Homo sapiens: one gene and its partner. The protein of the gene in region 1 purifies or fractionates together with the protein of each later gene. This does not show direct contact. Each region holds a gene or a part of one and is shown on either strand. Other genes may lie near its edges.

Region 1 (7,026 bases):
GCACAATTCCTCTCTCTGCTCCTCTGCCAACCGAAAGGAAGTCTTTTTGCACTGGGAAGTCAGATTCCCGATCTGAATCACCAGAGCCAGGGTAAATGGAGTTGGGTGGGGACAGTGAAGAAAGGGAATGGTGACTAGATGATCTTACTCAAAGAGTCCCAGCGAGAAAGTGTGTTCTCTAGATCTATTTCCTCATTTCTAAAATGATATGGTTGGGGCCAGGAGGGTTGGGGCCAGCCACAGTGGCTCACACCTGTAATCCCACACTTTGGGAGGCTGAGGTGGGAGGATTGCTTGATCTTAGGAGTTCAAGAGCAGCCTGGGCAAGATAGGGAGACCCCATCTCTACAAAAATAAAAAAAATTAGCAGGGCATGGTGGCACACACCTACGGGTTCAGCTACGTGGGAGGCTGAGATGAGAGGATCACTTGGGCCTGGGAGGTTAAAGGCTGCAGTGAGCTGTGACTGCACCATTGCGCTCCAGCCTGGGTGACAAAGTGAGACCTGTCTCAAAAAAAAAAAAAATGTAGCTGGGTAGGTGCCCCCTCTGAGGTCCCTCTTAGTTCTCTCAAGTACTATTAGCCATACCCCAGGAAAAAGCAACCACAGATGATCTGAGCACAAAGGCTGCTTAGCAAAGGAAGTAACATCACACTGTCCTAGAATAACCTCAGAGAAATCAGCCTCAAAATGGAAACAATGTAGGTTTTCAGTGAGATTTTTAATTCATGAAAAGAATTCACAGTTTCCTCTAAGACAAAATTATAGATAATGTCCTCATATCAACTCCATATGTAAAGAGCAGAGTAATATTATAACTTCTTTAAAACTTCCCATCTCTACTTTTGACTTTTTGAAACTGAAGCTCTACCTTGGATTCTGTATTCAATTTTAATATGAAAAATGCTCCTTTTCTCCCACTCCATTATTTTGTAGTTATGTAGTAACGAGTTCTGGATTATTGCTTCCTGTGCTGCTACCTCGGCTCTACCCACCGCTGTTTATGCTTTATGCTTTGGATAATGATCGCGAGGAAGACATTTACTGGGAATGTGTCCTTCGACTAAATAAGCAGCCAGATATTGCTCTCCTGGGCTTTCTTGGGGTGCAGAGGTAAGTGTAGTAGTTACAAGCGCAACCAAATGGTTTTAATTTAAAATGCAAACTGCATTATTGGAAATTTGGCACTTTGATATCTAATTATATATATGGCTTGTAATTATTTTTTGCATATGTCTTCTTTAACAAAATAGTGATAGTTAATAATCTTTATTTCTGAGAATATTTGGAGATGAGTATGAAACCTGCTGATTCTTTGGAATGTGTTTTTTATTATGTTTTCATATATATAGTAATATATATTTATTATATATTAGTAATGTATTTTATATATTATGTATAGTTATATATATATATATATATAAAGTGTGAGCTATTTTGCCTGGTATTTTATAGCTCTTTAGAGCAGAATACATATCTTTGGCATTCTTCCTTCTCTTCTTTTCTCTCCTCCCTCTCCATTTGCAATTTTTAAGTTAAAGGTTTTGAAGTGTTTTTTTTTTTTTCTTTTTTTGAAAGAGAGTTTCACTCTGTCATGCAGGCAGGAGTGCGATGGTGCAATCTCAGCTCACTGCAACCTCCACCTCCCAAGTTCAAGCAATTCTCATGCCCCACCCTCCCAAGTAGCTGGGATTACAGGCGCACGGCACCATGCTCAGCTAATTTTTGTATTTTTAGTATAGATGGAGTTTTGCCATGTTGGCCAGGCTGGTCTCGAACTCTTTGCCTCAAGTGATCTGCTCGCCTCGGCCTCCCAACGTGCTGGGATTACAGGTGTGAGCCACTGTGCCCAGCCCTGCTGTTTTTATTAGAAGGTATTATTGCTTGCTATCCAGGGAATACTAAATTATTATGTTTTCTTTCTAGGGCAGTGATAAAGCTGATTCCACCTCCCCAATCTCTATTTGTGCTACCAGGAAAAGTGAATAAGCCTCAATTTTTTTTTTTTTTGAGACGGAGTCTTGCTTTGTTGCCCTGGCTGGAGTGCAGTGGCACCATCTTGGCTAGCTGCAACCTCCACCTCCCAGGTTCAAGTGATTCTCGTGCCTCAGCCTCCCAGCTAGCTGGGATTACAGGCCTGTGTCAACGCACCCAGCTAATTTTTATATTTTCTTATTTTTGTGCTTTTTTTTTATTTTGTGCTTTAATTGTTTTCAGTGGAATAATTCAGTAGTAGAAATGAGATAAAACTGAGTGAAGGAAAAATATTTGGTAATATCTGTAACGTGTAGGTTATTGGGATATAGAATGACAAATCCCTTAGGGAGATGATAAAAACTCTTAAATCACTTCTGGAATGTTTATAAAAACTTAACCTATTGTGGAGCAGTTCTTTTTAATGGGGACAAGGAAGCCAATATAGCTGTCAACTATTTTTATGGGATTTTGTTTACCATAAGTAACAACTTATATTAATAATTTATGGATTCCATTATAGGAAATTTTGGCCAGCAACCTTGTCAATCCTTGGAGAGAGTAAAAAGGTATAGTAGATTTTCTTTTCCTCAGCAAATATGCTTTTCTCTAATGGGAAGGATTTGAGATAGCAAAACTTTTTCATTTTACTTTGATAGAACAGTACCCAAGCTTGTGTTTGCATCTGTTATTACCAAAGACCTGCACTCTGACATCAGTATCATTTATTTCTGTTGTTGCAGAAAATAGTTTTCCTCCTTGACCTTCACTCTCTTTTTTGCAGGTTTTGCCAACCACGAAAGATGCTTGTTTTGCCTCAGCAGTAGAATGTCTGCAGCAGATCAGGTAATCTCTGATTTGTTGAAAAGCCATACAAATCAAAGTAGTGCTTGGTCTATTAAGATATTATTAATATGATCTTATCTTTACCTAAGCCTTAAGCATCCCCATTCTATATGCTGATGGTGTCAAACTCAATCTGGAAATCAGAAATCAGAATGAGACCCTTGGGTTATCTTTTACTCTAAAATGACCTTGCATTTTCAAAAGTAGGAGAGAGCCAAGCCAGAAATTTATCCATATAATCACATCTTTAGCCAATTGGAAATTAACCAAATTTCTCATTCAGAAAAGAGCATATATTAGGAGAATGAGATTTCACGTGGGTAAAAGGAAACAATATATGAATCGTAGACAGTTGGAGGCTACTTTTCTCATAGCACCATGGGAGTACAAAGTCATCCTTTCCAACGACTCATAATGCCTAAGTGTCCGGGTTAAGGCATGTGAATCCCAGGAGGGAATATTGTCAAAAAAGCACGATCAAATGGCTTTATTAAGAAAATTATAGGATGTCTTTTTGTCATTGTTTCTGTAACAGCACAACATTTACCCCATCAGACAAACTTAAGGTCATCCAGCAGACTTTTGAGGAGATCTCTCAGAGTGTCCTGGCGTCACTCCACGAAGACTTCTTGTGGTCCATGGATGACTTGTTTCCTGTTTTCTTATATGTGGTGCTACGGGCCAGGTAACTGTTTTATGACTTTGTTATTAGTGAGTCGTTATTTTTAAAAGTCTGCTGCTTGCATTTTCTGAACTGACAGCAGGAGTACGCTCTTCCACTAGAAAAAAATCGATTAACCCATTCCACTGTGACATTACCCTTTTATTGAGCTGTTCTTTCTTTTTCCCATCAACTAGATTCAAAAGGAGAATGGACATGTAAGTGAAAATAACTCAGCATCTTTTTCTCTCTGGGGCAGGATTAGGAATTTAGGCTCTGAGGTACACCTCATTGAGGATCTAATGGACCCCTATCTTCAGCATGGGGAACAGGGTATAATGTTCACCACCTTGAAGGTGAGTATAGTTATTATTTAATACTTTCTTATCTTCATATCTGTCTTTCATTTACCATATTATAAATGCCATTAACCACTTTTTTTGTATAAAAGTTTAATGCAAACCTTAAATGCCTTTAGAGCACATTTTGTTCTACACTTTAAAACATTATATAGTATATTAAAGTAGGATAAGCCAGTTGTTCCTCAAAATACTAAAGCAAATTCTTCATTATCTAATCCTCCTTGTAAATTGATCAAACTGTTATAAATGTTTACATTTATATAAATAATTGTAATTCTAAAAAAGAAACAGAAAGGATTCTTAGTGTCCAAGAAAGTTTCCAACAGGAGTGCTATTCAATGGAACAGGGTAAAACACAGAAGGCAGTATGTAAATAATGAATTTGAATTCCATCTTCTTTCTTTGCCTTGTATTTACTGTAACCAATAGATTACAAATGAGCTTCTTTGATCTGGGTGGCCTGGAGAGATTGTTAGAAGTCATTTGTTTCCTGCCTTGATTTTTCTTGGAATTTGGAAGAATCACTCTAAAGTTTATTGAAAAAACAGCAGATAGAAAGTGCAAAAACACTTGTGAAAAATGAGAAAGAATAGACCTACTCTTCCAGTTAGTAAAATTTATAAAATTACAATAATGAAGATAAAATAGTATGTGACTGTCACAGGAATACACAATTACCTAAATAGAAAGGATAGCTCCCATATAAACACATCATAATAAAAACTTCACATGAAAGTGGAAACACCAAACCAAAATGGAAAAGAGGAATTATTTAACAAATGGTAAAACAAAGTATTGGATAGCTTATTAGCAGTTTTGGAGGGAGGGTAGAATAGCAAATTATATAGATGCTTTGGGGTTTAAATATAGAGAAAGGAAGAGAGAAGGAAAGACAGGTAAATTAAAATAAGAAAAATAATTAGAATTCAATGTCAGGTTTCTGGCCTAGGTTAACTATTTAAACTTTTCAACTAAAATACCATTAATGCTTCTTTTTTTTGAGACAGAGTCTCACTCTGTCGCCCAGGCTGGAGTGCAGTGGTGCAATCTCGACTCACTGCAACCTCCACTTCCCAGGTTCAAGTGATTCTGCTGCCTCAGCCTCCCAAGTAGTTGGGATTACAAGTGCCTGCCACCACACCTGGCTAATTTTTGTATTTTTATTAGAGATGGGGTTTCACCAGGTTGGCCAGGCTGGTCACGAACTCCTGACCTCAGATGATCCACCCGCCTTGGCCTCCCAAAACGCTGGGATTACAGGCGTGAGCCACTGCACCTGGCCTACCATTAACACTTCTATTAAATAAACTGAAAAGGGGGAGAAACTGGGGAAAATATTGGCCACAGATGACTTAGATTATTAGTGTTTATGTTATTTGAAGAGTATCTCTAAACAGATCACCAAAGAAGAAACTGAACTAGTAAGTTTACATGTAGAAAAATACTCAACCTCACTGAAAATCGTAGTACTGCAGATTTAAATAAGGTACCATTTTGTGCTGTTAAATTATCAAGAATATTTTAAAATTACTGATGGGGTTATAGTGAAGTCATTATTATTCCCACATTGCTGATAATGGGGTAAGTAGCCATTACCCTTTTGGAAAGCAATTGTTACTAACATAGATATCAACAACATCAAAAAATGTGGAGTTTGACTCAATGGTTCTACTCCTGGGGATTTATCCTAAGAAACTAAAGAATGGAAAATGTTACATGTTATCTGGATGTGTTATTCATTGGGGTATGAGTAATTCCCATACCTGGAAACTCATAATTCAGGGTGCTTCTTAAAAATGCATTCTTGGAAGTTATGACTCCCCAGGTCTGCAATGATGCTTAATCTGTATATTTATTAATCATACTAGGTGATTCTAATTAGAGTTGTACCTTTTAATGATTGGTATACTCTAAATGTCCAATCAGTAATGGCAAATTGTGGTGTCTCTGCATGTGAAGAATATTAGCTAGCTTGTAAAAAAACTTTGTTTTAGAATAAGACGGGAAATGAAAAAATTTTGTCTATACTAATTACAAGTAGGCAAAAGACAGCCACTAGATAGGGGAACTAGAAGGGAACAGGGAAAAGTGAAATCAATTAAATCTGTTGGGCCATCAGCTGAATTTGTTCATAAGGGATTTTGTTTCTTTAGTCCCATATGCATTGCTCTCTTTATGTAATTTCTTTAAAAGTGAATTTGAAATTATTTTGAACTTTTCTTCCAGGCATGTTACTACCAGATTCAGCGTGAGAAGCTTAACTAGGCTGCATAACAGCTTGAAAACTGGATTATCTACTACAGAGTGTTATAACACCATCTGGAGTCTTCCTGTAGTGGCAAAAAAGAACAGTGTTGAAATTGGAAAGGACTTTGTGTTATTTAGGTTGTTAGAATGAGCCTTACCAATAATAAGAGCCCTGAGCCCAGAAAAAAGGACTGTATAGTTTAAAGGGAGGATTGAAAGGGAGGTAAAAAATCAGATTAGACCAGTTCTTGGCCTATGATAAGTTCCAAAAATACCATTTATCTACTATTTGAAAAAAGAAGAGGATATCCCTTCCTACAGTAAAGGGTATGTCAGCTACATGAAGTTGTAAGAAAAGCTTCCAGTAGAGCTTCTTATATTAAAGAAGTTGATGGATATTTTTGAATTTCTGGTTTGCCTGAATCCACCTGCAGTTACCCCGATCCGTTTGCAAGAACCAGATCGTACTTGAAACTATAGTGGCCACACTCTGCCTTCCTGAGTCCCTTCCAGTCATGTGTGCATCATGTCTCTTTGCCAAGGGAGGGGAGAAAGGAACTTTTAAACTGCAGTTTTAACTTTTTCTAAGCTGTTTCTTGATGGGAGAGGTTCTGTGCAAAACTACCACATTCTGTCCCCAAAATGTGGAATGCATCCAAATAGGAGTCTTCTGCCTCTTAACTTAAAAGAACATAGGAATTTTGTTTTTGGTTTCTTTATCATGCTACAGAGAGTGAATACACTGGAATTCAGACACCGACTCTGAGCTGCTAGGAACCTCATTTGTCCATGTGCAAACGCTGTATTCCAAGGCCTGTGAATGGCAGCCTGAGGAAGTTTTGCATGCAGGCTGTGTTTTCGAGCAGGACTAACAACTGGGAAATAAGCAAAAAACTGCATCGATCCCCAGCCTGGTGTTGTTCTTCCCTATACTT
Region 2 (7,026 bases), on another chromosome or scaffold:
TGGGGGGCACTAGGAAGGTCCCCAGGGCCACGGGTCACTGCCCAGATTGTGGCATCCTCATAAGACTTGCGACTCTTCCCAGAGGAAAGAAAACCCCTCTCAGATGCTCCAAGGACTCCCCTAGTCTAGCTGCTTCCTGTGCCAGGCCCGGACCCCAGGGCGAACAGGCCTGTTCATCCACAACCTCACAGCTGAGGGCCCTCCTGCAGTTCTTCACAGGAGAGAGAAAGGAAGGCGCACCTGCCCAGCCCGGCCAAGAAAACAAAACTCTCTCCCATGGGTGCGGGAGGCTGCTGCCTGCCTGCTGAGCAGCTCAGGGCAGATGTCGCTATGGGTGCCAGCATTCTCGAAGTCTCCCTTGCCCAACAGAAATCTATCCAAGGACCAAGGGCTGGAATCGGCAAAGCCATCCGTGAAGACCTCCTCATTCTGTGGAGAAACGGCCCTTGCTTTCAGGAAGACTGTCACAACCATGCCTTGGGAAACGTCACCTCCAGATCAACCTTGGGAAAATCTTTTATTAGGGAGGACAGCCTGCAAAATCCTCCCTTTAAGAGCCCAGGCCAGCCTAGAACCTCCAGACCACAGAAGGGGAGTCCTGGGGACAGGACTGGTGTAGACAGGCATCTCCACCGCCCCGGTTAGCCAGTACCTAACACCCACTCCTGCCCTCGGCCGATGTGGCAAACCGGGGAGGCTTTTGTGTGGGGCCGGGGCTGCGGCCATGGCAGCCACCCTCCAGCTCCCGGGGGCTGGGGAAGACGCTGGGGTCCCCGTGGAGGCTGGAGCGGCGTTCAGGTCCTGCGGTCACTCGGCGTGCTCCTGCACCTCTTCCCCACGCAGGGCCTGCAGCCGGCTGCCCACAGTCTGCTGCACGGCCTCCAGCCCCTCTGCATCCAGCTCCCGCAGCAGCAGCAGGATGGCAGTCAGGACGTTCTGAGGGCAGAGGGGTGCGGACTAAGCCCACCCGGCACGGCGAGGCTGCTTCCCTCCACAAGGGCTGGGGCCTGGCCAGCGGTGCCCCACCACGGAGCGACTGGTCCCGGGGGTGTGGGCCGTCCAAGTGACTGACCGGCACACTCGGAGAATCTGAGCAGAGGAGCCCCGCCTGTGGACGCGTGTGTGGCACCTCTTCCACGTGACTCCTGTTGCCCTCAGCCCAGCAGGGCCCGGGCCCACATTCCACAGACCAGGACAGCAGGAGAGGCTGAGGGGCCAGGACGGCTCCGTGCGGGGCACGTGTTACACGTGTGTGCGCATTCACAGACCCGCACACGCAGCTCCCCCTGGGGCACAGCTCTTCAAGGCCCTGTGAGGCTCCATGCTCCCTCCCCACGGGGCCCTGTGAGGCTCCATGCTCCCTCCCCACGGTTTCTGTGCAGTGGGTGCAGTGGGCAGAGGCAGCCGCGGCCCCTAGCGGCCCGCCACTCACCCTGCCCCTGTGGCTGCTCGAGGCATCCCTGGCTGAGAGGGAAGGAAACTGGCCCCGGGAAGGCGGCTTCAGGCCACGTTCATCCTGGGCGCCGCTGCTGAGAGGGAGACAAAGGCGTGTGAGGGTCAGGGGGCTCGTGGCACCGGGGGGGCCTCTGCAAACCCTGTCTGCGGGTCGCATCCAAGCAAAGGAGGGGCTCATACAAATCCCACCTGGCACACGGGGGCAAGAGAAGGGAGGCAACTCCTGGGAGGTCAGGGGCTACAGATGGCAGCTCCTGGAGAGCCCGGCACTTACTTCACCTGTGGGGCGCCCTCCCGGCACCCTGGGGCTCCCCAGCTGTAACACCTTCCACCCAGGGCTTCAGGGGCAGGGTGGGGGGCACCCGAACACACAAATGCCGGGGGAGAGCTCCTGACCATGGGGTCAGGCCCTGTGCCGGATGGCAGATGCCTAACAGAGATCACATCCCGATGCCCCCACCACAGGCACCAGCAGCGGGTGTGATCTGCCAAGCAGGAGAGAAGTGCCCAGCTTCTGTCAAATGCGTTCGTGACCCGCTGCCAACTGCCCTGGGAGGCGCCGGCGTCTCACTGCAGAGTCAGCCCTGTGGCCCCTCCACGGCCCCCAGGCCCAAGGCCATACGGGCACTGATGGCCGTGCCCACAAACCATTCCAGTCACTGTGGCCCTAGGCCACCCCCCCCACCAGGGGCTCCCTGCACCTCACGAGCTCTGGTGCTGTGAGCCTTCTCTGTGCCAGGGCACGGGGCCTGGCTCACCCCCTCTCCTGCTCCCTGGCACATCCGCTGTTGGGCAAAACATGGACCTGCCACTGAAATCACTACCTGGGCACTGAGTCACTCCCAGAGAATATGGATGAGAACAGACACTCCCCCCGGATAATCCCTGTCCCTCACTTCCCAGAGACGCAGCTCACGGGAAGCCCCATTCACTCCCCGTGGGAGGACCCTGGGGGACAGGGATGGGCTGCGGAGTCCCCGCTGCCCTCCAGCCTCACGTTGCCTCCTCCTCGCTGTCCAGCGGGTCCCGGCCAGTCTCAGCAGCGGAGCTGAGGGAGCTCAGTGTGCAGCATAGCTTGGGGCCGCCGTGGCCTGTGCCCTCTCTCTCTGGGGCCGCAGTGATCTCCTCTCCCTCACTCAGTGCACGGGACAGCTCCTCCTCCGTCACAGCTTTGGGATGAAAGACAGAAGACAGCATGAGTGGCCTCACCCACGTGCAGGCCACATGCACTGCAGCTCCCGTCCTCACTGTGGCTTCAGGCACAGTCTGCTTGTGAAATGCATGCACGTGTATCCACCTCCAGGGACAACTCCCAGAGTAGCAGCCGGTTCCTCACTGTCCCATCCCCAGCCTGGCACAGGCTGACACACAACAGATGGTGGAGGGCTGCTCAGGAATCTCAACACCAGCCTTGGCCAGAAGCAAATACTCCTCAAAACCTCAACTAAGACACAATAGAAAAAGGAACAGACCATATTGAATTTATTCCATTTCTCTCATATATCAATTTCCCTGAAGTTTATATTATTAATATCAATAAAATTGTCTGGGAGAAAATAGTGGTGTCTGTATACCTGACAAGGATGAGACACTAGTGTGCTGAGAATGCCAAGGATGAACAAACAGCATGAAACCACAGCCTGGAAAACTGTGTCGGTGCTGGCGCTGGCTAGAGGAGGCACGAGTGCCTCCAATAGGTGGAGCGCAGCAGCAGGCACTGCGGTGCTGGGACGGCCCCTCCCCACGGCAGGGGCGCGATGGCACCGCCACCCTAGGTTCACAGTGGCCCGTGGAGCCTGCCCAGTCCCTGTGGACCAGTGCGATGCTGCTTGCCAGATACTGACGCCCCCGCTCGCCATGGCGCATGGCGATGGTCAGAGCAGGGCTGCTACTCACAGAAGCAAAAGAAGGAACCCTTTTGCTTTGCTACCAGGTCCTGCGGTCGTTGGGGGATACCCAAACTGTCAGTCCCAGGAGGGACCCTACGCTGCGCTGCTGCATTCGGGTGGCGGGATCAAGAGGAGACACAGAAGCCAGGGGAACAGCCTCTGGAGGAGACTTCACAGGACACATCTATGTCCCGCCAGACCAGGTATTTGCAGAAAAGGAGAAGAGAAAAGAGGGCTGGGGACATCCCCTTCCAGGGATTGTTTTGGGAGGGCCGGTGACTCCGCTGCGGCCACCTACCCTGGTTGTCCAGCTTCTGTAGGCGCGGCAGGGTGCGCAGCACGGTCATGCGGTAGCGGTGGGGGCTGGTGCCGCAGCACGGGTTCTCGGCCAGCCACAGCACCCGCAGACGCGGCAGCCCCTTCAGGTAGAAGAGCTCAGCCAGGCTGGGGATGCGGTTCCTCCGCAGGTACAGCTCACTCAGGCGCTGGCACCGGCTCACAGGCTCCAGGGTGGAGATGCTGTTGACACTGCACGGAGACCAGCACAGTCAGCGAGGGACGTGGCCAGGGCCCCCAGGGCCACCTCTCAATCCCCACCCCCAGTAAAAGGCACTCATGGGACCTGTGTCCCTGCCCTCTCCTGAGAAGCCTAAATCGGATGTCACAAGTCACGTGCAGCAGGACCTGGGCCGAGGAGAGAGCTGTAGGAAGGCCAGGCCCTGAACTCAAAGGCGGACTGGGGTGGACCCCACCAGCAACAGCCCCTTGGCCCGACGCTCCACATCAGCTCCTCAGGGCGCTAGAGTGCGGGAGGTGGGGGATGTGGCCCTCCTTCACAGGTGAGGAAAATTAAGGCCTCTCAGGGGACATATCATGTTGCCCCAAAGCAGGGAGCGGCCAGAAAAACTCATGGCAAAAACTAGGAGCCAGCTCCACGTGACATGGGAGTGAGCACGGACCTTCCAAACCCCCACTTGAGGGCGGCAACACTGGGGATGGGCCTCATTTCCATTCTACAGAACGTGGACGCGTCAGAGAAGAGAAACAGCAGGCCTGGAGCGGGGACCTGCAGGCTTTACCCTGCAGCGTGGGGTCCGTCCCCTCCACAAGCGAACACGCGGAGCCGCTCCCGCAGGCCCTCAAAGGCGCGGAGCCAGGGCCCCCTGCCTGGAGGGCTGCACTCGCGTCCGGCAGGCGCCTCAGAAGGGCGGTCACCAGGCCCCCATGGGCAGCCTGCCGTCCTGAGCCCCCCTCCCCATGCCATCCCTTCACTCGGGGTTTCCCAGGTCTCATGCAGCTCCTAGCTATGAGGCCGCCCCATTTTACCAAGAGCAAAACTCCGGCTGTGGGACTCTTTCCAGGATGGGGTCTGCCTCAGGCACAGGCAGCAGCGTGATGTACCGACCGCGTCCGCGGCCTCGAGGCTTCCTGCTCCGCTCCAGTGCAGTCAGGCGTGCAGGCACCACGCACCTGAGCTCGGTCAACACCCCTGGGGTCCTGTCCCTCCCGAGATGTGACAGAAATGGCCCCACACACGAGCGGCCTGATGCTCGGAGGCCCTGTGGCCCCTGGGTGACTCAGTGAGCGGCAGGGATAGGGCTGGATCCACAGCCCCGCCCCAAGCTTCCTGCCACCGTGGGAACCACAAGCTCCACGTTTCCCTGTCAGGTAAGCCTTTCGGAGGCAGGCCTGAAATCCCAGCCTCACTGTGTCGCCTGACTAGTGAAACGAGCCCCGCGGCAGGCACGCGCACCCCCCCTCAACCTCTGGGCGGGCACGCGCACCCCCCCCCCCCCCCCGCTCAACCTCTGGGCGGGCACGCGCACCCCTGCTCAACCTCTGGACTCGGGCTCCATCTCCTCCTCATCTCCCTGTGGGGTGGGCACTTGTAATACCTCCATGTTACAGAAAGGAAACTGAGGCACAGAGAGGGCCATGCCTCGCCCAAGGTTAGCCAGCCAATAGATGGGAGGGCTGAGATTTGACCCATGAGCATGCCTCCAAGCCCATTTCATTCATTCAGCAAGGCTCGGGCAGGACAGGCTGGTGCCCGCGCTGGGGATGCCTGAACACCAGATGGACTGGCCTCAGCCCATGGCGGGCAGCAGGCTGGGCACGGGCATCAACATGGCAATGCCAACCTCAGAGGGCATTACGGAGGATGGGCAGGGGCTGGCCTACCCCGTGGCTGCCTGTGAGATCAAGAAGGTAGGTCACAGTCAGGGACCAGGGGCCTGCAATACCCACTCTCAGAGGGCAAGCCCTAGAGACTTCTGAGCTGCCAGAGGGGTGGGCCTTCCCCACAGGGTTTAAACCCTTGTGAGCTTTTAAATGCGGAAACCCACAGAAGGCGCCCATCCAGCGTCTGGTGGGCAGTGGTGAGCCATGAGCGTCTGCTCCCTCCGTGGGTCCCACAGTAGGCAGGAGGGAATTCAGGGATAAAGGGAGCTCTTCTCTTCCCCAGAGCCCCCAAATACACCCCAACTGCCTGAAAGTCCAGTAACATTTGTTCATTCAAGCTTCCCTTAGTCTGCTGGGAGGGCAGTGACCCCAGAAGACGGGCACAGGTCATGGGGTGCAGAGAAACTGGTAGGCAGTGGTGGCACTGGGGGGCAGAAGAGGCCAGGACTCTGGGGGTCCCAGGGCAGATGTGGCCACCGTGGGGGCGGCCAGGGCGGGCCACCGTGAATCCTTAGGAGGGCTCCACCACCGACTGGCCCAGTGAACACAGCAATGGCTTATCGGAGCACACAGGCCAAGGGTGGGCAGGCGTACAGCAGGGCAGGCAGGGGACAGGAGCCATCAGGAGGCCCAGGTGAGGCTCTGAGGAAGGAGGGCTGAACATGGGGGCCACAGGGTAGGCCCAGCTCTCGCTGTCCCGGCCCCTCCCCTTCTGGAAGCCGCCCTCAGTCTGTGTTGGAGGTTTCCAGGTTATGTCACAGTGCTGGGTCCCACTGGAGGGACGTGAGGCTCTGCCCCGGCTTCCAGGCCCCAGGCTGAGCATGACAGCAGGAGCGAGGTACCTGAGCGTGATCACCTCCAGGCTGGGCATCTCCTGGCAAATGGAGATCTAGGAGGAAAAGAACATGACTAGCAAGCATGGCACAGCAGGGCATCGCGGCCGCACTGCCATCAGCCACAGAGAACTGTCGAAGCCACGGCCAACCCACTTCCGGGGCCTGAGGGGCACGGCCTTACTCAGCCAGTGTGCCCAGGGTGAATGCCCAGGGCCTGAGGGGAGCGGCCCTGCTCAGCCAGTGTGCCCAGGGTGAATGCCCAGGGCCTGAGGGGAGCGGCCCTGCTCAGCCAGTGTGCCCAGGGTGAATGCCCAGGGCCTGAGGGGAGCGGCCCTGCTCAGCCAGTGTGCCCAGGGTGAATGCCCAGGGCCTGAGGGGAGCGGCCCTGCTCAGCCAGTGTGCCCAGGATGAATGCCCACGAGTATGCCAGGTTCTCCTCTGACACCACCTTGCAGCCCAGACGCCCCGCAGACTGAAGGAGAAATGTGAGGCTCCTCCTTGCACGCACTCTGTCTTTATTAAATTTTACGACAGCATCGTTGCTGTCAGATGCTGCCAGCAGTGGAGACAGAGCATTCATTACTTTAGATGCCCTCAAAGGACATCAGGTAAGGGGACCCCAATGTCCCCTACGCAGGGATAGAAAGCAAGGAAAGGATGGAAAT

The links. The genes of interacting proteins can lie anywhere in the genome.
Region 2: the proteins of ALS2 (region 1) and CFAP410 purify together in Homo sapiens (affinity purification with mass spectrometry; 2 studies listed by BioGRID and IntAct, with this or other methods). This does not show direct contact.

What each region holds. Positions count from the first base shown.
Region 1 is NC_000002.12:201,700,934-201,707,959, reverse strand, and holds part of ALS2 (alsin), read left to right. Parts: coding exon 1-91; intron 92-937; coding exon 938-1,114; intron 1,115-2,498; coding exon 2,499-2,544; intron 2,545-2,759; coding exon 2,760-2,821; intron 2,822-3,356; coding exon 3,357-3,506; intron 3,507-3,741; coding exon 3,742-3,838; intron 3,839-6,070; coding exon 6,071-6,109; 3' UTR 6,110-7,026. UniProt on the Homo sapiens protein: May act as a GTPase regulator. Controls survival and growth of spinal motoneurons.
Region 2 is NC_000021.9:44,329,391-44,336,416, forward strand, and holds part of CFAP410 (nuclear encoded mitochondrial protein C21orf2), read right to left. Parts: intron 6,415-7,026; coding exon 6,368-6,414; exon of another isoform or gene 3,873-6,367; coding exon 3,643-3,872; intron 2,625-3,642; coding exon 2,453-2,624; intron 1,530-2,452; coding exon 1,433-1,529; coding exon of another isoform or gene 1,073-1,432; intron 937-1,072; coding exon 808-936; 3' UTR 1-807. UniProt on the Homo sapiens protein: Plays a role in cilia formation and/or maintenance. Plays a role in the regulation of cell morphology and cytoskeletal organization. Involved in DNA damage repair.